Regions from separate parts of the Homo sapiens genome. Here regions 2, 3, 4, 5 and 6 are each reported to be linked to region 1. The links are microRNA targets in miRTarBase. Many come from high-throughput screens and were not tested one by one. Region 1 holds a microRNA gene; each other region holds the end of a gene's coding sequence.
The links. The annotated mature microRNA hsa-miR-6889-3p reads UCUGUGCCCCUACUUCCCAG and lies in region 1 at 3,354-3,373, opposite strand. An mRNA with a match to its seed (bases 2 to 7 or 8) in the 3' UTR can be bound and repressed. Matches are read on the target gene's strand: a 7mer-m8 pairs with bases 2 to 8, a 7mer-A1 pairs with bases 2 to 7 and ends in A, and an 8mer does both.

Region 2: the mRNA of EHHADH is a reported target of hsa-miR-6889-3p. Seed matches in the 3' UTR shown: 7mer-m8 at 1,789-1,795.
Region 3: miRTarBase lists SKIL as a target of hsa-miR-6889-3p. Seed matches in the 3' UTR shown: 7mer-A1 at 2,243-2,249.
Region 4: the mRNA of IMPA1 is a reported target of hsa-miR-6889-3p. The part of its 3' UTR that is shown has no 7-base or 8-base seed match.
Region 5: miRTarBase lists PVRIG as a target of hsa-miR-6889-3p. Seed matches in the 3' UTR shown: 7mer-m8 at 1,211-1,217.
Region 6: the mRNA of ZNF852 is a reported target of hsa-miR-6889-3p. Seed matches in the 3' UTR shown: 7mer-m8 at 1,623-1,629, 7mer-m8 at 3,154-3,160 and 7mer-A1 at 4,282-4,288.

What each region holds. Positions count from the first base shown.
Region 1 is chr22:41,249,639-41,255,007 of GRCh38, forward strand. MIR6889 (microRNA 6889) reads right to left here and starts at 3,412; the gene lies at 3,354-3,412. It overlaps RANGAP1 (Ran GTPase activating protein 1), which reads right to left. Exons shown (of 16, transcript NM_002883.4): 11 at 4,670-4,856; 12 at 3,234-3,353; 13 at 1,369-1,471; 14 at 91-179.
Region 2 is chr3:185,187,672-185,193,040 of GRCh38, reverse strand. EHHADH (enoyl-CoA hydratase and 3-hydroxyacyl CoA dehydrogenase) reads left to right here. Exons shown (of 7, transcript NM_001966.4): 7 at 1-2,417. The coding sequence ends at 815. EHHADH-AS1 (EHHADH antisense RNA 1) reads right to left here. Exons shown (of 7, transcript NR_038990.1): 7 at 1,086-1,354. Among named protein-coding and RNA genes, the nearest start is that of EHHADH-AS1, 27 kb to the right of the region's middle.
Region 3 is chr3:170,391,347-170,396,715 of GRCh38, forward strand. SKIL (SKI like proto-oncogene) reads left to right here. Exons shown (of 7, transcript NM_005414.5): 7 at 913-5,369. The coding sequence ends at 1,071. Among named protein-coding and RNA genes, the nearest start is that of CLDN11, 25 kb to the right of the region's middle.
Region 4 is chr8:81,655,076-81,660,444 of GRCh38, forward strand. It overlaps IMPA1 (inositol monophosphatase 1), which reads right to left. Exons shown (of 9, transcript NM_005536.4): 9 at 1,839-4,391. The coding sequence ends at 4,276. Among named protein-coding and RNA genes, the nearest start is that of IMPA1, 29 kb to the right of the region's middle.
Region 5 is chr7:100,220,190-100,225,558 of GRCh38, forward strand. PVRIG (PVR related immunoglobulin domain containing) reads left to right here. Exons shown (of 5, transcript NM_001397246.1): 2 at 1-275; 3 at 358-484; 4 at 571-631; 5 at 739-1,301. The coding sequence ends at 1,062. It also overlaps the pseudogene CASTOR3P. Among named protein-coding and RNA genes, the nearest start is that of PVRIG, 2.9 kb to the left of the region's middle. RefSeq lists a silencer at 830-879 and enhancers at 1,300-1,399, 1,420-1,519.
Region 6 is chr3:44,494,250-44,499,618 of GRCh38, reverse strand. It overlaps ZNF852 (zinc finger protein 852), which reads left to right. Exons shown (of 4, transcript NM_001423469.1): 4 at 1-5,369. The coding sequence ends at 474. Among named protein-coding and RNA genes, the nearest start is that of ZNF852, 14 kb to the left of the region's middle.

The DNA of each region.
Region 1 (5,369 bases):
GGTGAGGGAGGTTGGCGGGCATGGCTGGGGCAGCTTCTGTGCAGACCCCACCCACCTCCCTCCCGGGCCTGCTGTTCCTTCCGGCCTCACCTTGAGCAGACCCATGTGCACGAGCAGCCTGGTGAGGAAGGTGTTGGAGTTGAAGGACGAGGAGTTGAAAGCCTTCTGCATCAGGGCATCTGTAGGGCAGAAGCAGCAGGGGCAGGCTGCTGGCTATGGCAGAGGGCTGGGCCAAGGCACCCAGGGTTCCCCCAACACCGCGCAGACACAGGCTCGCCTGCCTCCTCGCCCTGACGAAGAGGCGAACACGAGAGGGACGGCAGAGACACAGGAACCAGAGGGAGTGGCAGTTGGCATCAGGGGATGGGCTCAGTCCATCTGCCAGCTGTGACACTCTGGCCCTTGCCCATCCTGGCCTCAGGTATAAAATGGGCATGGGGATGACACCCACTGTGCCCACCTCACACCGTGGGAATGGAGATTTCCTGAGGCAGGCTACCACTGGGGAGGATTCAGGTTATTTTGGCAGGGTGAGGGGATGTGCAGGGACTGTGCTAGGCTTCCTGGGAAACAGAACTAGGGCAACTTGTTCCCAAAAATGCCCACAGGCGGGCCCTCAGGGAGCAGGCTTGTGTCTGGCCCCCACCTCCTTCCGAGCCTCATTTCCCACTGAGCCGCCCTCCCCGCTTCGACGCCACGCCGGGAAGAGGCACCACATGTCCTTCCACCCCTTTCTATCTTTTCCAGGAACCGTCCCCCTCGCCTCAGGGCCCTTCCTCCCCTCTGCCTAACCGGAACTGGCTCAGGTTTCGTTAGATGTGGAGGCTCAGTCAAGCACATGGAAACAGGGTGGAAGGTGACAGGTGCTGGAATGGAGGAAACAGACAGGGTGGGGAGAGGGTTGTGATAGGGCTGGAGGGATATGGGCTGGTGCTCCAAGGAAGCCCCCATAATGTTATGGGGAAAGGTGTCCTCTGTGCAAGGAACCTCCAGGTAGAGTGGACGTGAGCACAGAAGCTCCAAGGTGTGGACAAGGGCTTGGCTCTCACCATCCCTCCTCCCGATAGACCTGCGTCCATTGGGCTTGCAGATGTGACTATCTGGACTTCCTAGAGCGGGCTATGGGTTCTAACTGTACATGGCTGTGTGGATTTGGGAAAGGCCTCAGTTTCTCAGTGGTGAAAAACAGGGAGAAGAGCAGCCAGCTGGCTCCACGGCAGGACCCTGACGGAGGAAAAACTCAGGTGGCCAAAGAGCAGTTCCCATGAGAGCGCTGGGGCTGACGAGTTACGGCAACCACGAAGGATACCTGGGGCCCACGAGCATCAAGGGACAGAGGGCACCCAGGTCTCACCCAGCCCACATTACCTACTGCATCCTGCACTGCCATCCTCACAGTAGCTTCGTCCTTGAACACAGATGACACCTTTAGGAAGGCAGAGACCACCTTCTCGGGGTCAGACGTGTCAGTCTGAGGACAAAAGAGACAATGGTTGGCCTGTGGCACGTGGTGGAGAGGTACCTGGGCTCTGACGCTAGCTAGGAGAGGCCTGGGCAGTACAAAGGCCCCTGGCGGGCAAGAACAGGTCCTGCCTTACCCCATGCTGTCCCTTCAGAGTCTGGCTTGGATTTGGCCTGCAGCAAGCACATATGCAGCATAGAGAGGGAATGAATGAGTGAATGAACAAGGATGAAAAATCATCCCAGCCGGGTGTGGCGGCTCATGCCTGTAACCCCAGCACTTTGGGAGGCTGAGGTGGGAGGATGGCTTGAGGCGAAAAGTCTGAGACCAGCCTAGGCAACATAGCAAGACCCCATGTCAACAAAAAGGAAAAAAATTAGCCAAGGTTGGTGGTGTGTGCCTATAGTCTCAGCTACTTGGGAGGCTGAGGCAGGAGGACTGCTTGAGCCCAGGAGGTCGAGGTTGCACTGAGCCATGATTGCACCACTGCACTCCAGCCGGAGTCACAAAGCAAAACATTGTCTCAGAAAAAAAAAAAAAAAAATCATTTCAGGGATCCAGTGGTCCCCATCTTGTAATTGAACTTGAAGAAATAATCTAGCATGTAGACAATACTCACATGCAGAAACGTTTACCTCAACCTCACAACAGGGAAAAGTGGAAAAAACGTCAGAAACAGTGCCTGGCTTTTAAGTGCTACATCCACACATTGCAATAAAAATCCTGAGAAGAGTTTTATGGGCACAAGAAAGTGATGAATGGTGCTACACCAAAGTGATAGGCCACAGAAAGGCTTACAACATCTGATTTATCATGTTAAAAGAAACAAAGAATACAGGCAAAACCTAACAAAGCAATTGGCCGAAATGTTAAGCCAACTCTGAGAGTGGGCCCATTTTATTTCTCTGTAACCTCCGAGCCTCCGCTTTCTTATCTACAAAATAAGGGCTGGCCGGGCACGGTGGCTCATGCCTGTAACCCTAGCACTTTGGGAGGCCGAGGTGGGTGGATCATGAGGTCAGGAGTTTGAGACCAGCCTGGCCAACGTGGTGAAACCTCGTCTCTACTAAAAAATACAAAAATTAGCTGGGCGCGGGAGGCTGAGGCAGGAGAATTGCTTGAACCCAGGAGGCAGAGTCTGCAGTGAGCCGAGATCGTGCCACTGCACTCCAGCCTGGGCGACAGAGTGAGACTCCATCTCAAAAAAATAAATAAATAAATAAATAATAAAATAAAGTAAGGGCAGCAGAGTCTACATTTCATGTTGCCAAGAGGGTTAAATAAAATCATGCCCAAATGCAGTGCCTGGCAGAAAATGGATGCCCCGAAGATCATCTATGAATGAATGAATGAGCCAACCAACAAGTGAGGCTGGAGTGAGGGCACCCATCCTGCAATAGGCACGTCACTTCCAAAGGAGCCCTGGGCAACAGAGTTGTTCTCGAAGCAGCTGGGCTGACGGAACACGCAGAGAGAAGCCAAGGAGGGGGTGGGCACATGCAAGGCTCTTAAGGAAATTCCCTAACCCCAGTCAGCATGGGAACTGGCGGGCTGTACTTTCTGTAGGCTGAGTGGGGAGGGAACATTTGCAACCCCTGGAGGCTTATAAATACCCTGGACATTTGCGCGTGTTGTAACAGTGGCAGGCCAAGCCTCCCTGCCCCCAGCTGACAGCGTCGCACCCCCAGGTCTCTGAGCTGTTCGTCCCTTTTCTCTAACAGCTCCAGAAGCCACAGCACGTACAGCGTGGGGGTCGAGGGGTGGTTATTACCTGCTGGGCTATCAGCACGGAGCTCTTGGGCCCTAGGCGCAGCAGCTTCTCTGGAGAGGGAAAAGCCAGGAAGGTGGAGACGTCTGCAGGAGGTGGGGAGGACAGCACGGGAGCTGGCTCCTGGGAAGTAGGGGCACAGAGGCTCTGGAGAATTCCGGACCCCAGACTCCCCGACACAGCTGTGCCCATCCCCACACCCAGCACATCCACCCTTCACTCCAGCCCATCTAGGCTCAAAGTCTAGAATTCTTCCTCCCACTCAGCTGCATTTCCCATCTATCAATATCACCCAGAGATGCTGGCCCTGGATGGCTCTTGGTCCAGGAGCCTTTGGGGTGAGGGGGAAGCTACCTCCCTGGGACTCAAAAAACCTGCTACGGCCAAGTGGATCCTCGTCATGACATGCAGTGCCCCAGAAATGACTACGGAGGCACATGGGGGCTAAAGTGGGTCCCCGTAGAACTACAGTCCAGCCTGGGTAAGCCCTGCTAGCACCAGAGGTGCCCAGAGGAAAAACTGAATTGAGGCGAACCTAGCCATTTGTTTAATTGATTCCATAAACCAGAGAAGCAGCCCAATTCAGCGTAAGCATGGGGAGTCCTTGTCCAGAGCCAAGTTCTCCAGGAGCTTTACTTAGGAACCTGACAGGGAATGCAAATGAATGAACTGGAGGTGTGGCAGCCCTGATGCAGCCCCGGGCCAGACAAGGGACACCAAGTGCCCAAGCCAGGTCATGGCCCAGCCACCATCCCAGGAATGGGGGAGTGGTTCCTAAGGGTCACCAAGACAATCCTCTGGTGGGTGGGGAAAAAAAAAATCAGAATTTCTATTTATGCTTATTTGTTTATTCTTTCAGAAACCCTTATGCATATCTTATAATATACATAATGCAGCAGCACTGCTACCTGTAAATAGACATTTATATTGGGGTAAATAGAAATATAGGTAACTATGGCTGGGCCCGGTGGCTCAATGCCTGTAATCCCAGCACTTTGGGAGGTCGAGGAGGGTGGATCACCTGAGGTCAGAAGTTCAAGACCAGCCTGGCCAATATGGCGAAACCCCGGCTCTACTAAAGATACAAAAATTAGCCAGGCGTGGTGGCAAGCATCTGTAATCCCAGCTGTTTGGGAGGCTGAGGCATAAGAATCACTTGAACCCGGGAGGCAGAGGTTGCAGTGAGCCGAGATCACACCACTGCACTCCAGCCTGGGTGACAAGAGTGAGACTCCATCTCAAAAAAAAAAAAAAGAAATATAGGTAACTATCATTACACTGGGACCATTTTCCTTTTTTTACTCAATATCATGCAATCAAAAAAAAATGTTTGTGGCTACTGTGCTTAAGGAGACACCCCCTACCCCATTGTGAAAGTGCCTCGGGATTTCACGTTCTCAGGACCAGGGCTCTGATTGTGGCAGATGATAGAAACTCACCCCAGTGTTAGGGTCCAGAATCTTCCGTGAGGGCGTGGCTGACTTCTCTCCCTGCCCTCGCTGCTGAGGCTCTTCTTCCTCCTCCTCCTCCTCTTCTTCCTCCTCTTCCTCATCTTCCTCCTCCTCTTCTTCTGCTTCCTCTTCTTCCTCTTCTCCTTCCTCCTCCTCCTCCTCGTCCTCGTCATCACTGCAGAAAGAGCTGGCTGAAGCAGATCCTCTCTACCCAGCAGCCCAGGTTGGCTCTAAGGCCTGGCTCCATGAGCCCAGAGACCTCACCTCAGCCAGGAGGGAGAGAGCCTGGTGGGGTGGGAGCACCTGCTCCCAGGGCAGGGGCAGGTGGATCACCAGGGAAATCCATGCTGTGGACACAAAAAAATAAGATCGGCCCGGCGCGGTGGCTCATGCCTGTAATCCCAGCACTTTGGGAGGCCGAGGTGGGTGGATCATGAGGTCAGGAGATCGAGACCATCCTGGCTAACGTGGTGAAACCCCGTCTCTACTAAAAATACAAAAAATTAGCCGGGTGTGGTGGCGGGCGCCTGTGGTCCCAGCTACTCAGGAGGCTGAGGCAGGAGAATGGCGTGAACCCTGGAGGCGGAGCTGGCAGTGAGCCGAAATTGTGCCACTGCACTCTAGCCTGGGCAACAGAGCGAGACTCCATCCCCCACAAAAAAACAAAAAAAAAAAACAAAAAAAAATC
Region 2 (5,369 bases), not on the chromosome of region 1:
CCACTACCATTGCCACTGTTATGAACTTATCAAAAAAGATTAAAAAGATTGGAGTCGTTGTAGGCAACTGTTTTGGATTTGTGGGGAATCGAATGTTGAATCCTTACTACAATCAGGCATATTTCTTGTTAGAAGAAGGCAGCAAACCAGAGGAGGTAGATCAGGTGCTGGAAGAGTTTGGTTTTAAAATGGGACCTTTTAGAGTGTCTGATCTTGCTGGGTTGGATGTGGGCTGGAAATCTAGAAAGGGGCAAGGTCTTACTGGACCTACATTGCTTCCAGGAACTCCTGCCCGAAAAAGGGGTAATAGGAGGTACTGCCCAATTCCTGATGTGCTCTGTGAATTAGGACGATTTGGCCAGAAGACAGGTAAGGGTTGGTATCAATATGACAAGCCATTGGGTAGGATTCACAAACCTGATCCCTGGCTTTCCAAATTCCTATCACGGTATAGAAAAACCCATCACATTGAACCACGTACCATTAGCCAGGATGAGATCCTTGAACGCTGCTTATATTCACTTATCAATGAAGCATTCCGTATCTTGGGAGAAGGGATAGCTGCTAGCCCAGAGCACATTGATGTTGTCTATTTACATGGATATGGATGGCCAAGGCACAAGGGCGGGCCCATGTTCTATGCTTCCACAGTTGGGTTGCCCACAGTTCTAGAGAAATTGCAGAAATATTACAGGCAGAACCCTGATATTCCCCAACTGGAGCCAAGTGACTATCTAAAAAAACTGGCTTCTCAGGGAAACCCTCCCCTGAAAGAATGGCAAAGCTTGGCAGGCTCCCCTAGCAGTAAATTGTGATTCAGTCTTCCAGATTATGCCTCACATGCTAGCATCAGGTAATGCTGACTGAATTTCAGTGAAATTAAATCAAAAATCCAAAGTAAGATTGTTCTGAAATACAAAGCAAAATAAATAATCATTAGAATCTTCTGTGTAACGACTCTAATGGTCAAATCTTTAGGAATGTGCTTCCTATGCCTCTGAATCTGTCCTTATCAGATAAATTCAATGCATGAACTTGTGTGAATATAATACCATAATAGCTAATGAAAGAGGCTCAGGCATAAGTTGAGATTCTCAAATGCTTTTATCATTGGATAAATGTGTCATCAATTAATAAATGATAAATGCAGCTAAGTCATACATTCATTTTGACTCCTTTCAATGTCACACACATAGTATTGATCAGAAATCTTATGAATCATACATACACTCAACAAACATTAAAGTTGTAGGAAAAAGACAGTTGGAAATTGGTAAGGGAACTGAGTACTTCAAACCAGCACAGGGAACTTAGGTTAGTGTGGCAAGCCTTTCCTCTTCTGGTCTTTCCTCTTCTGTTTATGGAGAAATAATAGAAAGTAGTAAGTCGTTAACTTAGTGTAAGAAGGGTCTTAGAGAACATCTAACCTTCTAGGATTTCCCAATTCTGTGATAGAGTAATGACACCAGTTTTCCTGTCATGACAAGCCTCTGTGATGTTACATATGGAAATGGTTGAATCTTGAAAAATCTAAAATTGTTGCAAAACATATTTTGTATGATTTTGTTGTAAGAGTTCTTCTCTTTTTACTTTTTGCCTTGTGTAGTTAAAAATTAAGGGGCTGGTCAATACAAAAACTTGTACACAAATATTTATAGCAGAATTATTCATAATGGCCAAAAGCTGAATACAACCCAAATGTCTATGAACTAATGAATAGATAAACCAAATCTGGTATATCCATACAATGGACTATATTATTCAGCCATAAAAAGAAATAAAGGGCCAGGCACAGTGGCTCACACCTGTAATCCCAGCACTTTGGGAGGCTGAGGCAGGAGGATTGTTTGAGGCCAGAAATTTGAGACCAGCCTGGGCAACATAGCAAAACCCTGTCTCTACAAAAAATACTTTCCGTACATTAGTGGTTGCCTAAGGCTAGAATTGGGGGTGATGAATGGGGAGTACAGGATTCATCTAATGGGTACAGGATTTCTTTATGGTTCATGAAAATGGTCTAAACTTATTGTGGTAATGGTCACATAACAATATATTAAAAACCATTGAGTTGTATATTTTAAGTGGGTGAATTATATGGTATGTGAATTATATCTCAATAAAGTTGTTAGTAAATAAATGGGGCTGAAGATGTTATCCTTCATTGTGGTGTAAATGAACTTTCACAATATTTTCACCTGTGAACCCAAATAAAATGATTAAAGTTCTGATGGAAAAATCTTGAATGGAGTATAAGTTTTCCGTTGTTAAAAAGCAAACAAAAAACCAACAAAAAATCCAAGTGTGCCTTGAATTGTACAGAGCACAATTATTATGTTTGAAATGTGTACTACTTAATTTTATATAATTTGGTTTGTGAAATTAAAGACATCAATAAAAATGATTCCTGAAAGTAGTAATTTTGTCTCCAAAGTGACTTGCTTTCAAATCAGTGTTAAAAAAAACCCACTAACTTTTTCTTCAAACCTGGAATTAATTTTGAGTTCTTACAACTTATTTTCACCCTACAGTGGCCTCTAGATTAAGGGGGTTTTTTTTGTTTTTTTGTTTTTGTTTTTGTTTTTTTCTGACTGGAGTCTTGCTCTGTCGCCCAGGCTGGAGTGCAGTGGCGCTATCTCAGCACGCTGAAAGCTCTGCCTCCCAGGTTCACACCATTCTCCTGCCTCAGCCTCCTGAGTAGCTGGGACTACAGGTGCCCGCCACCACGCCTGCCTAATTTTTTGTATGTTTCAGTAGAGACAGGGTTTCACCATGTTAGCCAGGATGATCTCAATCTCCTGACGTCATGATCCACCTGCCTCGGCCTCCCAAAGTGCTGGGATTACAGGCGTGAGCCACCACGCTTGGCCTAGATTGAGATTTTGAAACTAGAGGGTCTATGAATAGGTTTTATGAGTCAATAACCCCTGAAATGTTATGATAAAGTTTGTGTACATGTATCTGAGTACATTTCTTGGAAAAGGTACCATATCTCACATCATATTCTAAAAAGTATCATGACCCGACCAGGCGCAGTGACTCACGCCTGTAATCCCAGCACTTTGGGAGGCCAAGGCAGGTGGATCATGAGGTCAGGAGATCGAGACCATCCTGGCTAAAACGGTGAAGCCCCACCTCTACTAAAAATACACAAAATTAGCCGGGTGTGGTAGAAGCACCTGTAGTCCCAGCTACTTAGGAGGCTGAGGCAGGAGAATCACTTGAACCTGGGAGGCAGAGGTTGCAGTGAGCCGAGATCATGCCACTGTACTCCAGCCTGGGCAACAGAGTGAGACTCTGTCTCAAAAAAAAAAAAAAAAAAAAAAAAGTATCATGACCCAGTAAAGGTTAAGGACCAATAGAAAATGGCAAGAGCAGCCTGGCAAGGTGGCTCATGCCTGTAATCCCAGCACTTTGGGAGGCCAAGGTAGGCAGATCACTTGGGGTCAGGAGTTTGAGACCAGCCTGGCCAACATGGTGAAACCCCGTCCCTACTAAAAATACAAAAATTAGCCAGGCGTGGGGCGCATGCCTGTTAGTCCCAGCTTCTCGGGAGGCTGACGAAGGAGAATCCCTTAAACCCGGGAGGCAGAGGTTGCAGTGAGCCAAGATTGTGCCACTACATTCCAGCCTGGGTGACAGAGAAAGACTCCATCTCAAGAAAAAAAATGAGAAAGAAAACAGGAAGAAGAAAATATGAGTTCATTCCTTCTTATTTTACATCAAATGAAGCCAAACTAATTCGAATTTGCTGGGTCCCACATATAATAGTAGTTAATATGATGAAATTTTCAGGATATCCTCTCCTGTCCTTGAACATATACTTGCTTAAATGGCTGATTTTGTTAATAATTTTAAAACTTAAAAAAAAAACTTTGGATTTTGTTTTAAAAAATATGTTCTAATGATCATTGACTCTGATGGGAATTATATATTGGAAACACCCTTGAAGCTGTAAGACTCCCAGCTTGAAAGATGCTCTTAATGATAGTACTTAAATCAGTAAAGCCACCATGCAGCTGCAGTTGCTCTCTATTTACTTTCAGCAGGAACAGGTGTGCATGAGAGCAATTAAAGTGAGGAATCCTAAATTCCCCTGATTAATGATGTTACAGAATTCTTTATGCAAATCACACTCTACTGCACTGTAGGAACCTAAAATTTCAAGGTCTTAGATTTGTCTTTAAAACAGATACCTAGAAATCAGAAATATTGCAGCCTCACTAGATTATCTGAACCTTTTTGGTAGCCATTGATAAGATTAAATCAAGTTCTCTGGACTATGTTTAAAAGCAGCTTTCTGCAAGAACAGAATAGTTCTTGACTATTCTTGGGACTGTCAGTGCCATCTGCTTATCTTACCAGCTTATACGTATTTTGAGATTAACAGACAAGTTACACTGCTTCCAGGCAGGACAGCAGCATTCACAACTCCAGCGGACACCATTCATACTGTGTACCAAGGGGTTGTCATCCACATAGAAAAGATATGAATGACATCCCCAGGAATTGTATAATGCCTAGTTTTGTTTCCAGGACACTCTGTGTGGCAGTTTCAAGCCAAAAACTCTTCTGGTTATTGCTGTATCTTTCTAAATAATAGTTGACAAAAGTGGCTGAGAAAACCTCTGTTTAGACTGGATCACCAATGGGACCAAATTTGGGACAAAATGGGACAAAATGATTGCATTTTGTTTGTTCTTTTTAATATTTTTTTCCTAGCACCCTGAGAAAGAGGAATATGAGAGAGATGAACAGAACTTTAAACTCTTGTCCAAAGAATACCAGGGCATTTAATTTATTTTTTATTTTTTATAGATACTATGTTGCCCAGGCTAATCTCAAATTTCTGGGCTCAAGTGATCCTCCTGTCTCAGCCTCCCAAAGTGCTCAGATTACAGGCATGAGCTACTGCACCTGGTCCCCCTGCACATTTCAATTGAAATATTTATTTCTTCTTTTGCACCCAAACTGAAAGTAGCCTGGCAGAATGAGTGCCTGAAAGCATCTCATAAGATGACCTGAGCAGAGCTAATGCAGTCGCTCATGCGCACATTTTCACTGTACTTAGGCTATTCCACATTCTCTAAGACGACACACAAACAGTTGCTAATTCTAGCCATAGTGTGATATCCCTAGCATGAGATTAGGGCAATTCCACATTCTCTAAGACGACACACAAACAGTTGCTAATTCTAGCCATAGTGTGATATCCCTAGCATGAGCTTAGGGCAAAACCTTCTCCAACCAGATCCTAAATGCACATGGATTTCCAAAGCTGGCCAAGGCCTAGAGTGTTGTTGATTTGGAAATTGACCGTTGGCTGTCCCCCAAAGTTTCTCTTCTTATGTAGGGATAAATGTCCCAATTGT
Region 3 (5,369 bases), not on the chromosome of region 1:
CTGCTCTGTCGCCCAGGCTGGAGTGCAGTGGCACAATCTCAGCTCCCCACAACCTCTGCCTCCCGGGTTCAAGCAATTTTCCTGCCTCAGCCTCCTGATTGTAGCTGGGATTACAGGCGTGCGACACTATGCCCAGCTAAATTTTGTATTTTTTAGTAGAGACGGGGTTTCACCATGTTGGTCAGTCTGGTCTTGAACTCCTGACCTCATGATCTGCCCACCTCAGCCTCCCAAAATGCTGGGATTACAAGCATGAGCCACTGCACCCGGCCACCGTTACTTCTCTAATAAAGGAATTACTTTTTGTCAAGCTCAGTTTACTAAGCTAGATTTCAAAATAGATAATTCTGTTAAACATAGCTTTATGCTGTATTGTCCAAGATGATTATTTTGATGTTTGTTGCTTTTATTAGTTTAAATTTTTATCGGGTTACTGCAGTTTAGTTACCTAAATTGCTAATCTCTAGCCCTCTGAATATTATATGTTATATTATTTTAATGTAGTATATGAGCTTTCAAATCTACAAATTAACAAACAGGAACTGTTGCCTGTTATGTTCAAAAGCACTGGAGCAAAAATAAGCAATTCTCTTTTGTTAATAGAATCTCACAATTTAAGGAACATGAACAAATAACTAACATGAGCAGGCTGTGATGAGCGGTATAGTAAAGTATAGGGCATAATGAACATGAACATGCTGGATGTGTTCCTTCCTCTTGTTCCTTTGCTTTTTCTTAAATTTAGTGTCCTGTCAGATGTCAGATTAATAGTATTAGATGCTTAATGGATTTAGTATACATGAAATAGTTCGTTTTGTAAAAAGTAATTTGAAAATAGATATTTTCTATGATATGAGGATTAAATGGAAAAACAAAACAATTAAAATTGATAGCGCCTTTTAAATCACATAGTTGGCAGAACTGAGGCAGAGATTGGACCATGCTGAGGCCGATAGGCAAGAACTCCAAGATGAACTCAGACAGGAACGGGAAGCAAGACAGAAGTTAGAGATGATGATAAAAGAGCTAAAGCTGCAAATTCTGAAATCATCAAAGACTGCTAAAGAATAGAAACTGTTAAAGAGATTCATCTGTGTATTACTGACAAGGTTTTTTTTGTTTGTTGCTTGCTTTGGTAATTGAATTCTGAAGAATTTATCTGCATGACGATAACTAGGCATTCTATCCATTTGTAGATCAGAGAAAGTGAAGAGATTATATATTAGTACTTAAATTTTTACATTTTCCAAATGAATGAAAATGTATGTTTCTTTGTACTTTTTTAAAAAAATCAGCTTAGTAACAATACTATATGGTTTCAACTAGTAGGTAATCTGCTTATATTTCTAATGCAAACTTAACAATTGTGTACTTTTTAAAAGCTGCAATATGTGTTGGAAAATAGCTGTGGTCAATTTTGTTATCCATATTTCAGACTCAATTTTAGATACAATGGTGGCTTTATATTTTAAGTATATAGAGCTACTCAAGGAGTTGAATCTCCCCTTTTCTCATTAACACAATTTTTCTAAGTTGATATGGTGTACTCATTAACATACACCAAATTTACTTTTACTTTGTTCAGATTGTGGAATGAATTTCCACCAGTTCTCTTCTTTTTAATGTGTACCCTAGGAGGAATTTTACTGAGGTTATAGCATACCCCATGAGCACAGTGGGGAAGAAGAATGTGTTGTTATGTGCTGCTGCTAAACAGAAGCAGCAGTTGTAATTTGTTTTTCAGTTTAAATGTGGTTATAGTTAGATTTTTTTTTAAGCAGCAACTTTTCAAAAATAAAATGTGATAATTTCTGAACTTTTGTTTGTGTTGTTAATAGTGGTGTGAAAATATTAACGTTCTTGAGAAAAACTGATACCACTGTTGTGTATCAGTTTCTATACAATCCATAATCCTCCTGTACAGTTTTTACATGTAGTTATGAGTCTTACTAAAATTTATATAATGGACTTGTTTTCCTTTAAGTTGTAAAATGTTAAACACCTTGAAGGTTATTTTGGACTTCTGTATGTTTAAATGTTGTCTTACCAAAATTTGCACGAATGGACCATTTTCATTTACTACTTAATATCAAAATCAGGAATTTACAGTCAACTGATAGTACATGATAGGTGCATATAGGACAGTTTAGTTACCTGCTACTAAAAGATTTTTAGATAAGTTTTAGAAGATAAAGGAATTCCATAGTTTCAGGAGGGACAACATCTTCTGCACTTTTTTTTTGCACAGAAAAGTCTGTCATTCTCTAATGGCAAATTTCATATTTGTTAATTCTTGGCTCAAAATATATTAGGTAAAATTCTTAGATCTGTTTTTAAAGGGAGTTTCCTGAAACTATCATTAATTGACATTATTACCCCATGGATTTTATGGGATAATAAATGTTTTTCATGTTCTCTTATAAGATACTATGTATGAAATTACTTCAGAGAGCTATATTTATTTTAAAATAAATTAGCTAGGGTTAAGGTTATATTCTATTTCCAGCATAGAAGGTAGATAATCTAATGGTGTAGAAAGAATCACTAGGTTGTCATTTAACCAGTTATTTTCATATTTTGCTTAATAGTACATATCCAAAAAGAATTTTGTACTTCCCCAAATGTAATTTATTTACTAAATTGAGTATAACCTAAATGTGTGTTTTCTATTTTCCATTTAAATTTTGCTATATTAAGACTAATTTAATTCGTTGAGTCTTGGAATCTTCTCAAGGAGGAACAAATATTAAAATGACATGTAGAAACAAATTTTTTTTTTTTTTTTTTTTTTTTTTTTTTTGAGACAGAGTCTCGCTGTCTCCCAGGCTGGAGTTCAGTGGTGCAATCTCGGCTCACTGCAAGCTCTGCCTCCTGGGTTCAAGCCATTCTCCTGCCTCAGCCTCCCGAGTAGCTGGGACTACAGGCACCCACCACCACTCCCGGCTAATTTTTAGAAACAAATATTTAAAATGACATATTCTCCCAATACAATCTATTTAGATCTGGAGAAGGAAAAATCAGATATTTATGATATAGTTTTATTTTAATTTTGAATTATTTGTGTCACAGCTCAGCTTTTTGGAAGACAAACTCAAACACCTATAATTTCATTTATATTTCTAATTCACTTGGAACCTTTCTGCTTTATGTTACCTAGAAAATGATAATTTGTTTAACCCAAAACTTCTAAAATAAATTGCTTAATCCTTGAAATATGTTATTGGAAAATTTTAAGCAGTGCTTAAACACCATTAAATTATTATGAACTTGTAATTCAGAATTGAGTAAAGAAATATTTTTTCTAGTCCTTCATATATTGAAAACTTGCCACATGACATTGTATCGTCTTCATTTTCCAGAAGATGCGTTGGTGTGCCATAGGTTTCTAACTTCCTTGAAAATAGTTTTTTAAGTCAATTGTAAATATACGTATTATTGTTAAAAGTAACTTTAAACTGCAACACATAGCTTCAAAACAATATAGAGATTTTGTAATACCTTATAAGTGGAGTTGGCTAAAATACCTTATCCATATAAAACTTATTCTATTCTTTGCATGCTTATTTTGTGTGTTGGTTGCTAGCTTAAAGTTTGATTTGTTGTTACTCTTTGTGTGCCAAATTCACTAGGCAAGCGGATTTTTCCTCAGACTTCAAAAAATAATTCTTTTAAGAAAAAATGTAAAAATGTTTATTCTAAAAAGCTGCATTAAAGGGACAACCTATAAAAAGTTTTGCTAGCTCATCTTTAGAAGGAAGAAAGAATATTAGCTTGGGTGATGTTTAATTTGGGTGGCGATAGTTTCTGTAGGCTAAACTTTATGAGAAAAGTGTACCTACTCTATAAAGGTAATAAATGTAAAACCTCTTGCTGTTATTGAGGAAGCTCTTCAACTACCCTAAATTTCACAAATGTAACTTATAACACTATGAAAAGATTTGACCAACAATTTACGTTTGCTGTGTGCTTTAGTTTTTGTTTAAGCATATTCTTTTGCTTGAATTTCTGTGTTCATGAGAGTTAGGGTGTTTTATGCTTCTTGAACTAATTTTATAACATATTTAATATATTACCAGTTAAGATATAAAATCATTTGTACATAGCGAATTGTAAAGCAGCTATTAAAGTAGGTGAAATAAAGTATATATTTGCCGGTTATCCATATCTTTTAGAAGTCCTGACAGAACAACCAGTTTATTTGCACATAGGTAGCTTCTGTTTGAAGGAAGGTAAAGTTATAAGGAAACTCAAATACTATAAGATGTGTCAAGGTATTTCTCCAGAATTAATTGCAAAGCTAGTGCTGAAGGATTTTAATCAGCTTCTAAAATTTTCTTCTCAATAAGGCATATGTTTTGATTACTTAGGGAAGATTCCTCATTTTTATTTGCCCTTTATGCATTTAATCCACATGATAGGACATTAAAAATTAATATAAAGAAAAATCGTGCTCATACTGTACATCTGTTTCTGTGCTTGGAACTACTTGTTAATAGTTTTTATCGAAGCTGTCAGCAATAAGGGACATAAAACTGCTGTATTATACATTGTGGAATTGAATAAACAGCCTAATTTTTTTTTTCTAGTATAGGGTACTTAAGCATTTCCACTTTTGGAAGAAAAGTGTATTAGTATTTTATATTGCATTTCATTTAAAAGGACAGTTTTTTTTTTTTTTTTGTAAATCCATTCATTGAAATGGTTTCTAAACTGTATAATGTAATTTGGAGCCTATTTAGTAATAGAATTAAATGTCCTATGTAGTGCTACAATTTTTGAATTAGAAAGTGATCAAATGTAAGAAAAAAATTTAAAAATTCAGCCCAGAAAACAAAATAGTGTATTAAATTAGTTTAATGTAAAAGGAATTTATAAGATTTTTTTCCTCAATATAGATACCTCACTTGAAAAGAAAGCACAGCATACTTAAAGTAGTTCTAGTAAACATGTCCTAGAAAACAGTTGCTAAATGTAGGACATCTTTTGAGGAATTAGTTTATGAGAAATAAAATTTTACTTGTTTTTACTATCCTGTTAGAAGTATTTGTTTATCCTGATAATTTTAAGCCAACATAGTAGTCTTAAATTACTTTTGAATTTCTAATCTGTGAAGGCAGTAAATGAAATATCTGTTCTGCAACTGTTGAAACAAATAATTGGCTACATTGACCATAATTAAAGTTAAAATTTTGCCAATGATGTACAGTTTTATGGTTAAAGTTGCTGTGGTTGGTTGCATTACATGACACAGAAAACTGTCCTCTACCTCACGTGAAATAAATATTTTATATGGTTTTACTAAAAATAAGACTCATGTATCTGGTCACCTAGTTTACAAATTTTGAATTATATTTATTGAAACATGACAT
Region 4 (5,369 bases), not on the chromosome of region 1:
AAAAGAATATCATAGAAAGATAACATATTTAGTCAATGAAATCAGAACACAGTGATTTTTTAAAAGTTAATAGGTTGGAAGATAAAGATATGGAAATCTCCTAGAAACTAAAGCAAAGAGATTTTTTTTTTGTTTTTTTGTTTTTTTTTGAGATGGAGTTTCACTCTTATTGACGAGGCTGGAGTACAGTGGCTCGATCTCGGCTCACTACAACCTCCACCTCCCAAGTTCAAGCGATTCTCCTGCCTCAGCCTCCCGAGTAGCTGGGATTACAGGCGCCCGCCACCACGCCCAGCTAATTTTTGTATTTTTAGTAGAGACGAGGTTTCGCCATGTTAGCCAGGCTGGTCTTGAACTCCTGACCTCAGGTGATCCACCTGCCTCGGCCTCCCAAAGTGCTGGGATTACAGGCGTGAGCCACTGTGCCCAGCTGCAAAAAGATGTTAAACAGAGGAAATAAGTTGATAAATATAGAGGATTCAACAACTGAATAACAGAAATTCTAGAAAGAGAAGAAAGAGACTAAGGAAGGGGGGAAGTTACCACAGAAACAAAACCCTTAAGACTGGAGGAATTTCCAGCACAAAAAGACACGAAAAATTAACACAAAGAATGAAAAAGACGTAAGTCAATGATCATCACAGGGAAATCAGAAAACTCTAGATAAGAGAAAATCCTAAAATCTTCAACAGAAAAGAGTACACACTGATGGAGTGACCGTCACAACAGTGTCTCATCAGCAATGCTGAAAGCTCTGAGAGTGAAGCAATGCTTTAAAAATTCCGAGGGAAACACTGCTGCAACCTAGAGTTCTAGACCTAGGCAAACTATGAATGCAGCAAGCAGGAATAGACATCTGCTGATACCAGAGATCACAAAATTTTACCTCCCAAGTACCTTTCACAGGAAGCACTTGGAAGATGGGCTCATCAAAATGAGCTAAGAAAGACCCAGGATATGGAAAATTCAGCATAGAAGCAGAGGCAAGCCCTGAAGGACAGTGCAGCATACCCAGCCAGAAACCAGTTCAAACAGAAGAAAAGGAAAAGGGCCCCAAAAGGGCTATCTCCAGAGAGAAAAGAAAATAGTTCTCACACAACAGAATACTTAAGTATGGTGAACCAATGGAAAATCCTGGGAGAAATCTGTTAATTTCAGAAAGTATAAAAAGTTGCACAGGAAAGAAACTGTAATCATAACACACTACTTGCTAGCTAACCAATTAATAAAAGTCGTAAGTTAAACAATGGACATAATTTTAGCAAAAAATTTTATATATCACTATTGTAGAAGGATGGAAAAGAGGACAGAAAAGCAACTCATGGGGTCTGCTTCCATAATACCAAGTTAACTGAGATGGAGTGAAGCCAATAAATAAAGATTTAGTAGAACATATCTATCCTTTTCAAAGATGGAGGTAAATACCAGCAACAACTGCTAAAAGAGTTTGAGGAGATAAACTAGGGTGGGATAGAATGGAACAGGAAAATGCTGGTTTTCATTCTGAACTGTGTAGCAGTATTTGAAATTTTAAACTATGTGTGTGACTAAATAGACAGTAATAAAAAGTACGTATTTTTTCTAAATGAGGCAGGGTAAACATAGGGAACTGAGGTAAAAGGAAACAGTTTAAAATAATTATTTTTGTTTTCTTCAAACATGGTATTTTAGGCTCTACACTAGATCTTAAAATTAAGGACAAATTAGTCAGAATAATACATATCCCAGGAAAACTTCTGACTTAGCATTGTAAACCAATTCTAAGAATGGCTGGTAATTCATAACAAAGCCAAATAATGCTTCACAAGTAAGTATAGGATAGAATGAACACAATTTCGTTAAAAGGCAAGTACATATATTTTATGTGTTCAAGTACATATATTTATGTATATTTATGTATGTATCTGTGTATGTATCCACATGCAGAAAGATAATATACCCTGATACAAAATATACATGTTAAGTCTAAGAAGTCCTGTTACTCAAAGAAATATTTTCAAATATTATTAGATAATTCACTTGTCGATCATCCTTTTTCAGCATCTAAAGAAATTTCAGACACAAAATATGCAACTGCATTTAGAATAAACAGATGGAAAAGCTATTGTAGAAAAAAATATAGGTTTTTAGAAAAGTTGGAAAGATTACAGGCAAAAAATAAGAACATATATTAAATTACATTTGCAAGTTTCAAATATTTGTAACTCAACACAAAAACCTCTAAAAGTATGTTGGGTGCAATGGCTCACATCTGTAATCCCAGCACTTTAGAAGGCTGAGGCAGGAGGATCACTTGAGCCCAATGAGACCAGCCTAAGCAACATAGGAAGATTCTGTCTCTACAAAAACTAAAAAATTAGCCAGGCATGGTGGCATGTGCCTGTGGTTCCAGTTACTAGGGAGGCTGAGGTGGGAGGACTGCTTGAGCCCAGAAGGTTGAGACTGCAATGAATGGTGATCATGCCACTGCATTACTGTTTGAGCAGAAGAGCAAGACACTGTCTTCAAAAAACAAAAACAAAACAAAGCCTCTAAAAGTAGTTTGAACTATTAACTTTAATAATGTAAATATCATGGCCTGGCTCGGTGGCTCACATCTGTAATCCCAGCACTTTGGGAGGCCAAGGGGCCTGGAAAACATAGGAAGATCCCATCTTTACAAAAATAAAATTAAAACATTAGTAGGGCATGGTGGCATGAACTTATAGTCCCAGCTACTCAGGAGACTGAAAGAGGAGGATCACTTGAGCCCAGGAATTTAAGGATACAGTGAGCTATGACTGCACCACAGCACAGTCAGAGACAGACCCTGGGCAACAGAGCGAGACCCTGAATCTAAAAATAATAATAATGATAATGGTAATAATAATAAAAATATCAATTTAAAGTTTTATTCATGATCGTCTTATTAAAATAAATTTAATTGCAAAAACAACCTGTCTTAGAATACAGTATCAGATGTTTTAAGTACATGTGATCAACAGTACAAATAATTATAGCAGTCAAACCTTAGTATCACACATACTTAATATATTAGATATACACAATAATAAAATCACTCCCTACCTTGAAAACTTTACAGAAGCATTTTTAATTTTACAACACAAAGCTCAAACGAACCTACAATAAGTCTAGTAGTCTGTTTACGTGCCAAGGGATAAGGCTGAACAATAAATTAACCCTTTAAAAATGTCTATGAACAAGTACAATTTTCTTTTTGAGTTCTGCAGAGCAATGACCACTAAGAAATATTTTTAAAGGCTGAACAGAATCCAGCGGCAATGAAGTTAATTAAATAAGAAGACTAAGAGAAAAATAAACAGTTCAATATTAACAATACAGTATATTTGCCAGCACAATCAAATCAGTATAAACACCTTTAAAACATGAATACTGAACTTAGTAAAATGTTATATTGTATCTAATTATGTCAGATATCTGATGAGAGTGCTTTTTATTATAGAAATAGTTTCTTCTCTCTTACACAAGACTTTAAAGCAAATCCAAACAGACAATTTAACTGTTTTGGAAAATGTATTCACTGCAGAAATGCCCACAATAAGCCATGCTATCTGATGGTATGGTAATGTGAAATGGCATGGTAACGTGAAATAAAAAAAATTTAACTAGATAATTTTTACTTCAAACCTGAAGCAAAAGTACAGAATGCTGAGTTCATTACTTTATGTATCTATTGTAACTAGGAATTACTACATTAAAAATATTCATTCTTACAATGTTTGTTTTTAGTTGCCTAGATATGTAATGGGCCAGGTGCTATATGAACACTGAAGAATAAAACAAAAAAGGTTCTCTGCAAAGAAAAAAAAGTTGGCCTAGGGTACTCAGTATATCCTTACAAATTTAATTATATATGGTTTTTGAAACTAAAGAGAAATGTTTTTCCAAACAGTTAACTTTCTAAGTGGGTGTCTCTGCACCTATATACTAAGTCAAAATTTCAGGGGACCATAGATATTTAGAAACACAAAATTGCTAATTGACTATTTCAGTTGATGTTATATTTATCAACTGTACTTCCTGGGTATGTTTCCTAAAGTACATTCTTACATGCAAAATTTTTTAAATCAGTGAAACAAACATTATGTCAATTCTTGCAAACCTAGACATAGTAAAATAAGAAACAAGTTCCAAATTTTTGACCTGGACAAAGAGAATTTAAACCAAGCATATCATACATCCAAAACACATATCCATTGATGAGTCACCAAATCTGGGGAAAAGCAACTGGGATTGACTATGAGGCTGCCTTAATTAATCTTCGTCGTCTCGTTGCAAAGGTATAACCTGAATTTCTTTAGCTATCCTTTCTGCTAATATTCTATTATTTGCAGCAATTACTCTTCGTGACATCAAATCAAATGGTCCACCTAAAAGCAAACAAGTATGAAAAATAATTTTATCTGGTACAAAAATAATTCATATAAAACAAGTATAGCAATATGTACTATGGTCACATAACATTTTAATACTTTCAGTTTTCTTAAACAAAAATCTACTGTTACATTTCTACAATGTATAAGCTTAGACAATATATAACTGTTTCTAAGCATAATTTTTGAGTAAATAATGAAGTCATACCAGTTAGAAAATGTCATATTTTCTCTATTTTTGTGCATTCTTATTACCTCTTTATTGTTTAAGAATCTATGGACAGAAAATGTGAATCCAATGCATTTTCATACCACTGTCCTTCCCATTTCCTTATTTCTTTGTTGCCTTTCTCCCAGATCACTGGTGAATTCTTTCAGCACAGATTCACCCTTCGGTTTAAAATTTTCACCATCAGTTGAAAGCAATTATTTAACTTCTCTAGTCTCAACACAGAAAGTGATGGTGGAGGAAGTCCATCATCAACTATCACCATTGTCACCATTCAAAGAGCTCTGGGTATAAGCCTCAGACTCGGTGACTGTCTAGGCCAAGGGTGTCGAATATTTTGGCTTCCCTGGGCCACACTGGAAGAATAAGAATTGTCTTGGGCCACACATAAAATACACTAGCACTAATGACGGCTGATGAGCTAAAAAAAATTTTTTTAATCGCAAAAAACTCATTATGTTTTAAGAAAGTTTACAAAGTTGTGTTGGGCCACATTCAAAGCCATCCTGAGCCACATGTGGCCCATGGACTGCAGGTTGGACAAACTTGGTCTAGGCTTTTTCTACAGCCTTTCAGGAGTACCTGAAACTCACACTAGAAAAGGATTAGCCATTTATCATTGTAAGTCTCACATTACCATTACCTCTTATCCTTACCTCTATCTCCTAAAGCTTATTTTGATTTTGCACACAATTATATAGCTTGTTTCTGCTTCAAAAACTGCAGTATAACATATATCAAAAAGT
Region 5 (5,369 bases), not on the chromosome of region 1:
GGGGTCTGGCTCCATCTCCCTGGTGACTGTGAGCTGGGGGGGCCCCAACGGTGCTGGGGGGACCACGCTGGCTGTGTTGCACCCAGAACGTGGCATCCGGCAATGGGCCCCTGCTCGCCAGGCCCGCTGGGAAACCCAGAGCAGCATCTCTCTCATCCTGGAAGGCTCTGGGGCCAGCAGCCCCTGCGCCAACACCACCTTCTGCTGCAAGTTTGCGTCCTTCCCTGAGGGCTCCTGGGAGGCCTGTGGGAGCCTCCCGCCCAGCTCAGACCCAGGTGGGGCCGGGGCGAGGGGTCCAGGAGGGCAGGGAGGGGCTCGGGAACTGGCCACCCATCTGATTCTTGTCTCCGTGCCCAGGGCTCTCTGCCCCGCCGACTCCTGCCCCCATTCTGCGGGCAGACCTGGCCGGGATCTTGGGGGTCTCAGGAGTCCTCCTCTTTGGCTGTGTCTACCTCCTTCATCTGCTGCGCCGACATAAGCACCGGTGAGACCTGGTCCCTGTCCACGTCCCCCTGACACTGGGATGGCCACATGCCCTGCAGAGCTCTGACCATCCTTGCTCTCTCCCAGCCCTGCCCCTAGGCTCCAGCCGTCCCGCACCAGCCCCCAGGCACCGAGAGCACGAGCATGGGTGAGGAGGGGACCTGCTTTGGGGATGAGGTGACAGGGGCAGGGGCAGGGGGGCCAGGGCTGGGCCCAAGCTGTGCAGACTCACTTGACCCTCCTTCCCCCGCGCAGGCACCAAGCCAGGCCTCCCAGGCTGCTCTTCACGTCCCTTATGCCACTATCAACACCAGCTGCCGCCCAGCTACTTTGGACACAGCTCACCCCCATGGGGGGCCGTCCTGGTGGGCGTCACTCCCCACCCACGCTGCACACCGGCCCCAGGGCCCTGCCGCCTGGGCCTCCACACCCATCCCTGCACGTGGCAGCTTTGTCTCTGTTGAGAATGGACTCTACGCTCAGGCAGGGGAGAGGCCTCCTCACACTGGTCCCGGCCTCACTCTTTTCCCTGACCCTCGGGGGCCCAGGGCCATGGAAGGACCCTTAGGAGTTCGATGAGAGAGACCATGAGGCCACTGGGCTTTCCCCCTCCCAGGCCTCCTGGGTGTCACCCCCTTACTTTAATTCTTGGGCCTCCAATAAGTGTCCCATAGGTGTCTGGCCAGGCCCACCTGCTGCGGATGTGGTCTCTGTGTGTGCGTGTGTGGGCACAGGTGTGAGTGTGTGAGTGACAGTTACCCCATTTCAGTCATTTCCTGCTGCAACTAAGTCAGCAACACAGTTTCTCTGATGTCGGCCTCGGCTGTGCTTCTTCTTTGGGGGTGAAGAGAGTGGGGAGGCAGTCTCCACCCCTGGGAGGCAGAAGCCAGGTGAGAACCAGAGTGGGTTGGGGCCTCATTGCAGGGCTGGGGTTGGCCCAGGGAGAGGGCAGTGTCCCAATCTTAGAGATCTGTCCTGGCTTCTCAGAGTGGCAGGGGTGTTGGGGGAGCTTCCTGAGGGACACCTGTGGCTGCCTAGATAGGGCTGGGGGATCCCAGTGGGATGGTCTCTGCTCCAATCCCACCATGTTCTAGGACAACAGCAAGGGTTCCTGGGGCTTTGGCCTGAGAGAAGTCCCTGTGGTTTGACCTGGCTTCCCTCTGCTGGGCTCCCTGCTGTGGCCTGGGCTGGGGTCCTGATGCCCTCCTTCCACAGCTGGCGTTAGGCAGGGTGTGGAGAGTAGGGGGACTCACCTGAAATCTTCCCTCAATCACTTCCCCCGCCTCCTCTCGGGGAAGGCAGAGGCCTTCACAGACATGGGGGACTCCCCACAAAATGTTCCATCCAGAGCCAACCTTTCTGCTTGGTAGAGCTGTGTCTCCCCCTCAGCCTAGTTCCAGGGCGGGTCCGTGTCTCCCACCCCAAACTAGTTCCAGGGTGGGTCCCTGTCTCCCACCTCAGACCAGCTTTGGGGCTGGTCCGTGTCTCCCCCTTCAGACTATCTCTGGGGCAGGTCCATGTCTCCCACCTCAGACTAGCTCCAGGGCAGGTCTGTGTCTCCCCATTTAAACTAGCTCTGGGGCGGGTCCGTGTCTCCCCCATCAGACTAGCTCCGGGGCGGGTCTGTGTCTCCCACCTCAGACTAGCTCCAGGGCAGGTCCATGTCTCCCACCTCAGACTAGTTCTGGGGCGGGTCTTTGTCTCCCCGCTCAGACTAGCTCTGGAACGGGTCCTTGCCTTCCCACTCAGATTAGTTCCGGGGTGGGTCCATGTCTCCCCGCTCAGACTAGCTCCAGGGAAGGTCTGTGTCTCTTCCCTCAGATGAGCTCCTGGCAAAGCCTCCCCCGTCAGACTAAGACTCCTAGGCAGAGCCGTGCCTCCCCCTGGTCCAGCCGGCGACCCCTCATGCCCAAGGCAGCCCTACCCATTGAAGTAGGACATGACATCCATGAGGAGTGTGGCAACAGCAGGCAGCGTGTCGGGGTCCAGGCTGGTGACACAGAACCTGTTGCTCGGGCTGGACAGTGGGTGGATGACCGGCATCTGGACTGTAAGAGCACAAAGATGTCAGGCACTGAGGCTGGGACTGAAAGCAGCAGCTCTGGTGAGTGCAGGGCCTGGGAAGAGGGCTGGGGAGGGCTCAGCCGCAGGCCCTGAGAGACTCATTCACTGCTGCTTCTCCAGCCTCTACCACCAATTACCACCGTCCTGATTCTCCATCTCACTCTCAGGCCCCTGGGCCTTTGCACATGCTGTGCTGGCTGCCTGGGATGCCCTTCCCAACTGGCACCACCTGGCCCCGTTCCTACCTGTGTTCCAGGCTTCAGCACCACAGTCCCTGCCCAGGGAAACCCACCCTGACACCTGGGATTGCAGCAGGAGTGGCCTCTGGCCATTGCTGTATGCATGCACGTCCACCACCCTTGCTAGACATGGCAGCAGGGCCTGCCCAGGACCTTTCCATCACATTTTTTTTTTTTTGAGATGGAGTTTTGTTCTTGTTGCCCAGACTGGAGTGCAATGGCACAATCTCGGCTCACCGCAACCTCCGCCTCCTGGGTTCAAGTGATTCTCCTGCCTCAGCCTCCTCAGTAGCTGGAATTACAAATATGCACCACCACACCCAGCTAATTTTGTATTTTTAGTAGAGACCAGGTTTCTCCATGTTGGTCAGGCTTGTCTCAAACTCCTGACCTCAGGTGAATTGCCTGCCTCGGCCTCCCAAAGTGCTGGGTTTACAAGCATGAGCCACCACACCTTGCCCTTTGCATCCCGTTCTGCCTGGCACTCCATTCATGCTCAGTGGGCAGAAGCCCGTGCTGAGAGCAAGGCTGGTCTACGGCTTGGCCTGGTAACTTCGTGAGGTTTCCCCGCACAAACCCCCGCCCCCAGCTCACCCAGCTTGGGCTTCACGAAGCCACTGGTGATGCCGAGGTTCTCGGCTGCTACAGTCTAGCCACTGACCACAGGATGGTGAACTCTGATGACAACGTGTGGGTGACAAAGGGCAGGTCCCGCTTGAGCACCTAGGGGCAAGAAGTTGAGGCTGTGTGTGCCTGGTGGCCCTGGGGCACCAACCTCTCACCCTGAGACTCTGCCCCCACCCTGGAATAGCGTGGAAGGGCAAGGCTGCAAGGGGTGGGAGATGGGAGTGAGTGTGTCAGAGGCGGGCCCAAGTGTGCAAGGCGTGTCTGTGATGGTCAGCTCACCAGGATGAAGTCTGTCTGATACGTGGACAGCATGAACACGGATATGTTCTGGTCAGCCAGTGGGGCGATGACTGACTTGGCGATCTTGGTCATGCCAATAGGCTGGGAGCTGGAGAAGCTGCCACCGCCGGACACCACGTTCAGGGCCAGCCAGGTGGCATCCGCCACACTCAGGTGCTCCGAGGAGGGCAGCTCTGGAGGGAGACACAGAAGGCAGCCCTGTGACTGCTGAGGTTCCAGCTGTCCCAAGGGCAGGGCAAGGTAGGCCAGAGAGGTGGAGAGTGAGGCTCTGGGGCCAGCTCTACCCTGTGCCTTGCCTCACTTTCCAACAGGATTTTTTTTTTTTTTTTTTTTTTGAGACAGTCTTGCTCTGTCACCAGGCTGGAGTGCCTGGAGTGGTGCGATCTCGGCTCACTGCAACCTCTGACTTCCTGGTTCAAGTGATTCTCCTGCCTCGGCCTCCCAAGTAGCTGGGATTACAGGCACGTGCCACCATGCCTGGCTAATTTTTGTATTTTTAATAGAGACGGGGTTTCACCATGTTGGCCAGGATGGTCTCAATCTCTTGACCTCGTGATCCGCCTGCGTCAGCCTCCCAAAGTGCTGGGATTAGAGGCGTGAGCCACCGCACCTGGCTGGATGGGATTGTTTTTTGAGAGAGTCTTGCTCTGTCGCCCAGGCTGGAGTGCAGTGGTGCAATCTCGGCTCATTGCAACCTCCACCTCCTGGGTTCAAGTGATTCTTGAGTAGTGGAGATTACAGGTATGCACCATCACACCCAGCTAATTTTTGTATTTTTAGTAGAGATGGCATTTTCCCATGTTGGTCTGGCTGGTCTCGAACTCCTGATCTCAAGGGGTCCTCCTGCCTTGGCCTCCCAAAGCGCTAGGATTACAGGCGTGAGCCACTGCGCTCGGCCTTCAACAGAATGGGATTTGAATCAAAGGCTGCTTCCTGGGAGGACTGGGCAGGGAAGGCCCTCAGATGACACAGGACATCCCCAGCAGCTTAGCAGAGTAGGAGCCATGTGGGCAAGTGGTTGATCTGCGCCAAGCCTCAGTTTCCTCAGCCGTAAAACGATGGCATCAGTAGTGGGTAATGCCCTTATCTTTAGTTCTTACAACCCTTTTGTGGGTCTGATGCTGTCATCACGCCCATTGTCTCGCGTGCAACTGGCTTTCAAACTGGGTTCCTGGAGACCTCCCAGGAAGGCTCTGGGTGGAGGGGAGGCCAGGAAAAGGCTGGGTGGGGCTTTGGGGTTTCTCTTCCCCCTTCAGCCAGCCCTGCACATTGGGCTTCTCTGGAAGAACAGGCAACTCCAGGAGGGCCCCTGAAGAGGCTGCATCATGGGGGGCAGTGACTGTCACCCATGTCCCTCCTGAGAGCCTGGAAGTCCCAGGGGCTGGCAATGGCTTTGGCAGGCGGGGGAGTCCACAGCAGCAGCAACTGCTAAGCCTCCTTACCTAGCTCATGAAAACCCAGAATCCAAACGCTGGAGCCATCCCTTCCACCCTGTCCTACAGACAGAGTCCCTGAGTAGCCCTGAACGTGGGACACAGGCACACACTATGTGTGACCACACCCAGCCGCAGACTCGAGCCCAGGCTGCATTTGGGGCTCTTCATACATCACCAGGCACCTGCATAAACCCACCTAGTGCCAGGCCCTGAGTGGGGA
Region 6 (5,369 bases), not on the chromosome of region 1:
GAGTGTGGTAAGGCATTCGGTCTGAGTAAATGTCTTATTCGGCACCAGAGGCTTCACACAAGTGAAAAGCCCTATAAATGCAATGAGTGTGGAAAATCCTTCAATCAAAACTCATACCTCATTATACACCAGAGAATTCACACTGGTGAGAAACCCTATGAATGTAATGAGTGTGGGAAGGTCTTCAGTTATAATTCTAGTCTTATGGTACATCAGAGAACCCATACTGGGGAAAAACCCTATAAATGCAATAGTTGTGGGAAAGCCTTTAGTGACAGCTCACAGCTTACTGTGCACCAGAGAGTCCACACTGGAGAGAAAAACCTTATGAATGTATTGAGTGTGGGAAAGCCTTTAGTCAGCGTTCCACTTTTAATCACCACCAGCGAACTCATGCTGGAGAGAAGCCCTCAGGTCTGGCTCGGTCATCTTCTTAAGGCATGGTTTTCTGAGACAGACAGCAAAGACCTTTGAGTTAAGCTGTCTTTATAAGAAGGATGTTCATCATGGTCTCCTTGGAGACCACTAATCACAGTGGAGACCATACCTACTTGCTTTTCCTTGGGTCACTAAGGTGGGAGAGTAGGTGCAACTTAGTCTGATCCTTACTTAGTAGGAAATTGGGGATTACATCTGTCATTAACTTGTAGGTTCCCTTCTTTCTCTTAAAAAACTATTTAAAACTCTATCTTGTTAGTATGCATTCCATAATCAGATTCTGCATTTCTCAAGAACAGCAGTTATATTACCTTTATTCTATTGCAGTTCCTCCACTGAACCATTTACGTGAAGTCACTTTTTAAGTCATTCTGCAAGATTATTCTTCCCTGCTCCTTGGCTATCTCCTTCCACAGCTACTTTAAAAATTTGTACTGTAAGCTACATCCTCTCATCATTTTTGTGTTTTCTAGCTAGAAAACTTTTTCTTCCTGTTTGCTAATCACTTCCTTCACAATGTTCAAGATTTATGCCATTTCTGAAAGACTTTCTTCTTCAAATAGTTTTTCGTTTCTTTTATACCTCTATTGATTTGGCCTTAATGCTTTAAATTAGCTGGTGCTACGATGTGTAACTGTTAAATGTTTTTGTAAATTGTTCTTAACTTACAAGGTGATATGTGTATCACATATGTACAAAGTATACACATATATAGTTGTGTATGTGTATACTTTCTTTTTTTTTTTTTTTTTTTTTGAGACAGAGTCTCAGTCTCCCTCTTGTTGCCCAGGCTAGAGTGCAATGGTGCAATCTTGGCTCACCACAACCTCTGCTTCTCGGGTTCAAGCGATTCTCCTGCCTCAGCCTCCCGAGTAGCTGGGATTACAGGCATGTGCCACCATGCCTGGCTAATTTTTTTTTTTGTATTTTTAGTAGAGATGGGGTTTCTCTATGTTGGTCAGGCTGGTCTTGAACTCCCAATCTCAGGTGATCCGCCCGCCTCAGCCTCCCAAAGTGCTGGGATTACAGGTGTGAGCCACTGCACCCAGCCTCAAATGTGTATACTTTCATACCAGCTTGTAAGCTTCTGAGATCAGGTATGGTATCTATTTCTTTATATGCATAATAGTTTGAATATGCTAGTTCTTAAGTTTTAAAATTCAAATTGAGCCATCATAAACGTGGGCACAGGCTCCCGTCTCCCTCCCATTACACTGGACTAGAAGCTTCTAAAGAAGGAAGTGGCATCGTAATATATCACATATAAAGGCTCACTGATATCTTCTACTTGTAGCCCTGGAAGTCTTACTACTGGTACTTCAGCCTTGAAGAGCTAATGGATTTGTGTGTGAATGAGTGTCTGTTTATCTAGGTATTGGGTTGGGCAGTCATATCCTACTGATAACATGCTTTGAGCTGCACACTTACTCCATTTCTGAACTATTTGACTGCATCCTGCTTCCTAAATAAAAGTTATAGTCGGCCAGGCTCAGTGGCTCACGCCTGTAATCCCAGCACTTTGGGAGGCCGAGGTGGGCAGATCACTTGATGTCAGGAGTTCGAGACCAGCCTGGCCAACATGGTGAAACCCCATCTCTACTAAAATACAAAAATTAGCCGAGTATGGTGGTGTGCACCTGTAATCCCAGCTACTTGGGAGGCTGAGGCAGGAGAATTGCTTGCACCTGGGCAGAGGTTGTAATGAGCTGAGATTGTGCCACTGCACCCCAGCCTGGGTGACAGAGTGAGACTACATCTCAAAAACAACAAACAAAAAAAACCTTACAGTCAAAATTTACTGCAAGAAGACTTGACTTTCATGGCTGTAATATAGATGATTGAAAATTTCAGCTAGCAGCATTCCTGGATGATTGGAATTCAGAGTGATGAGGTTTTTGGTAAAATAGTAGTATCAAACTAATCTGTTTTCCTTATCAGCTAGTCCTTTCTCACTACAACTGCTGTCTTAATTTCAAGATGAGAACTGTGCCTTAATTATCTTCCAGACCACCTTTCCTTCTGCAGTCATATGTCAGTCCATGAGCTTGAACCACCTTTCCTTCCACCCTTGCAATAATGGCCCAGTGCCGGTGGACCTTTTACTCTAATGTTCACCCTGTTCTCTTTCCATCCCCAGACTTTTTTTTTTTTTTTTTGAGACGGAGTCTTGCTCTGTCGCCCAGGCTGGAGTGCAGTGGTACGATCTCAGCTCACTGCAAGCTCTGCCTCCCAGGTTCATGCCATTCTCCTGCCTCAGCCTCCCGAGTAGCTGGGAGTACAGGCGCCCGCCACCAGGCCCGGCTAATTTTTTTTGTATTTTTAGTAGAGATGGGGTTTCACCGTGTTAGCCAGGATGGTCTCGATCTCCTGACCTCGTGATCTGCCTGCCTCGGCCTCCCAAAGTGCTGGGATTACAGGCATGAGCCACCACGCCTGGCCTCCATCCCCCAGATTTCTTAACAGGCTGACAGGATCCGCAGTATGACAAAGGTGGAGGAGGAGGCTAGAGGGGCAATGTCAGTCATGTAACCTGGAGGGGTGATTTTGTGCACTGTGGTGTATGTTTCAGACAATGCAGGAGAAAGGAAAGAGAGTTGAGGATCAAGAAAATTAGAATTAAATGTGATTGTTGGGGAGATGTCTCAGACAAAGTTAGAAAGGATTACTGGGGGCCTAAAGTTTTTCAGGGCCTTTTGAAATTTCTAAACTTGTCTGGGCACAGTGGCTCATGCCTGTAATCCCAGCACTTTGGGAGGCTGAGGCGGTCAGATCACCTGAGTCCAGGAGTTTGAGACCAGCCTGGCCAACATTGTAAAACCCCGTTTCTACTAAAAATACAAAAATTAGCTGGGTGTGGTGGTGCACGCCTGTAATCCCAGCTATTCAGGAGTCTGAGGCAAGAGAATCACTTGAACCTGGAGGGCAGAGATTGCAGTGAGCCAAGATCACACCACTGTACTGCAGCCTGGGCAACAGAGCGAGACTCTGTCTCAATAACAACAACAAAACAACAAACCGGAGCTCATGACACGGCTGGAATTTTACCATTTGTGAATATGTATTTTAAATGTTTTCAGCTTGTTTTTTTGTATTTTTTTCCATTTTCTTTTAAAAGATATGCAGATAGGACTTTTTCCTCTTTAACTGTCTTATTTTGGGAGCCCCCAGATTTCAGGGAAGAGCCCCACACTATATGAGCACATGAGTTGGACATTTCTGGTTCCCCGCCCTGAGTTGGACATTGCCAGTCATGTCTGCAGAAGAACCATCCTGCCTGTTGGAAGCTGCAGTTTTACCTTCTGGTTCTTGCCTGCTCATCCCCTACCATACTAAGCCTCCAGAGTGTGGGAATGTGCACCATTTCCTAACTATATTAACTCACTGCCACCAGTCTGGTGTGGGTGCTCAGTACAAGTGAATCCTGAAAAAGCCTCAGGCTCTTGGATGGAGGAAAACTGGCTGCATTTGAAAGCCATACTTCAATTTCTATTGGTCACTGCTAGTATAAACTTTAATTATTGATTTAAACAAATTTTATCTGGATCCAATTATGTTGATAAATTATTTTTAGGTTTAATAATTTGTTAGATTCATTTCCTAGCTTTTCTAGGTTTAGAATAAATAATGATTTATTTGTCTTTTGATGTCACTTATGTTGTGCATTAGCAAGAACTTCAGAAAACATGGAACAGTAGATGTCTTTCTCTTAACGCTTGGGGGAATGTTTTTAGTATTCTGCAGTTTCATATCGTGTTCATTGTTGGATTCTGATGTTCTGTTAGATTTAGGAAGTTTCCTTCTAATCTTATTTCTAGAAGAAGCAGTGTAGTTTAGTGGTTAAGAGCACAGATTTTGTTCCCAGTGCCCTAGGTTCAAATCCTGAGTCCACCACTTTGTTAGGTGTGTGATCCTGGGCAAATCACTTACCTTCCTTGTATCTTATTCCTCCATCTATAAAATGGAGCTACCTCATAGGGTTGTGAAGAATACATTATTGTAACAATACTGGGCACACAGTGCACAGTTTCCCAATTATTATTATACTTACAGTTTTGTTTTCTGTTTTTTTTTTTGACAAGGTCTCCCTCTGTTGCTCAGGCTGGAGTGTAGTGATGTGACCATAGGTCACCTCAGCCTTGAACTCCTGGGCTCAAGAGATGCTCCTGCCTCAACCTCCCCTATAGTTAGGAATACAGGCATGTGCCACCATGCCCGACTAAGTTTTTATTTTTATTTTTTGTAAACATGGGGTTTCACTATTTTGCTCAGGCTGGTCTTGCGGTCCTGGCCTCAAGCGATCATCCTGCCTCAGCTTCTCTAAGTGCTGGGAATACAGGTGTGAGCCACCATGCCTGGCCTATACTTAAAAAGTTTTTATTAGGATTGGTTGCTATATTATATCAAGTTTAAAAACTCCATCATTGTAATTTTATGAGTTATGGTTTTTTCTTTTTGTAATTCATTTTCTTGACAAGTTTGCAAATATTTGCAATTTCCTTGTACTTTTCAAGTAAAATCTATTTGTTCATAGTGAATTTTTATTAAGTACAGAAGTAGATTCAATTTGGTAATGCTTTGCTAGCTTTGCAAAAGAATTTGGAAAAAATTTTGTTTATCTTATTGCTATGGAGAGTTTGTATAACATGGGAATTGTTCCTTGAAGGCTTGCTAAAAGTAACTGGGCCTGGTTCTTTGGGTGAGGGGATTGGGAGGGATATATCTTTAGCAACTGTTTTAGTCAGTTTGAGCTATTATAACAAAATACCATAGAGGATGGCTTAAACAACAGACATTTATTTCTCACAGTTCTGTAGTCTTCATAATTCAACATCAAGATGCCAGAATGGTTGAGTGCTGGTGAGGGCTCTCTTCCTGGTTTGCAGATGGCCCCCTTTTTCCTGTGTCCTCAAATTTCAGAGAGCAAGAGCACT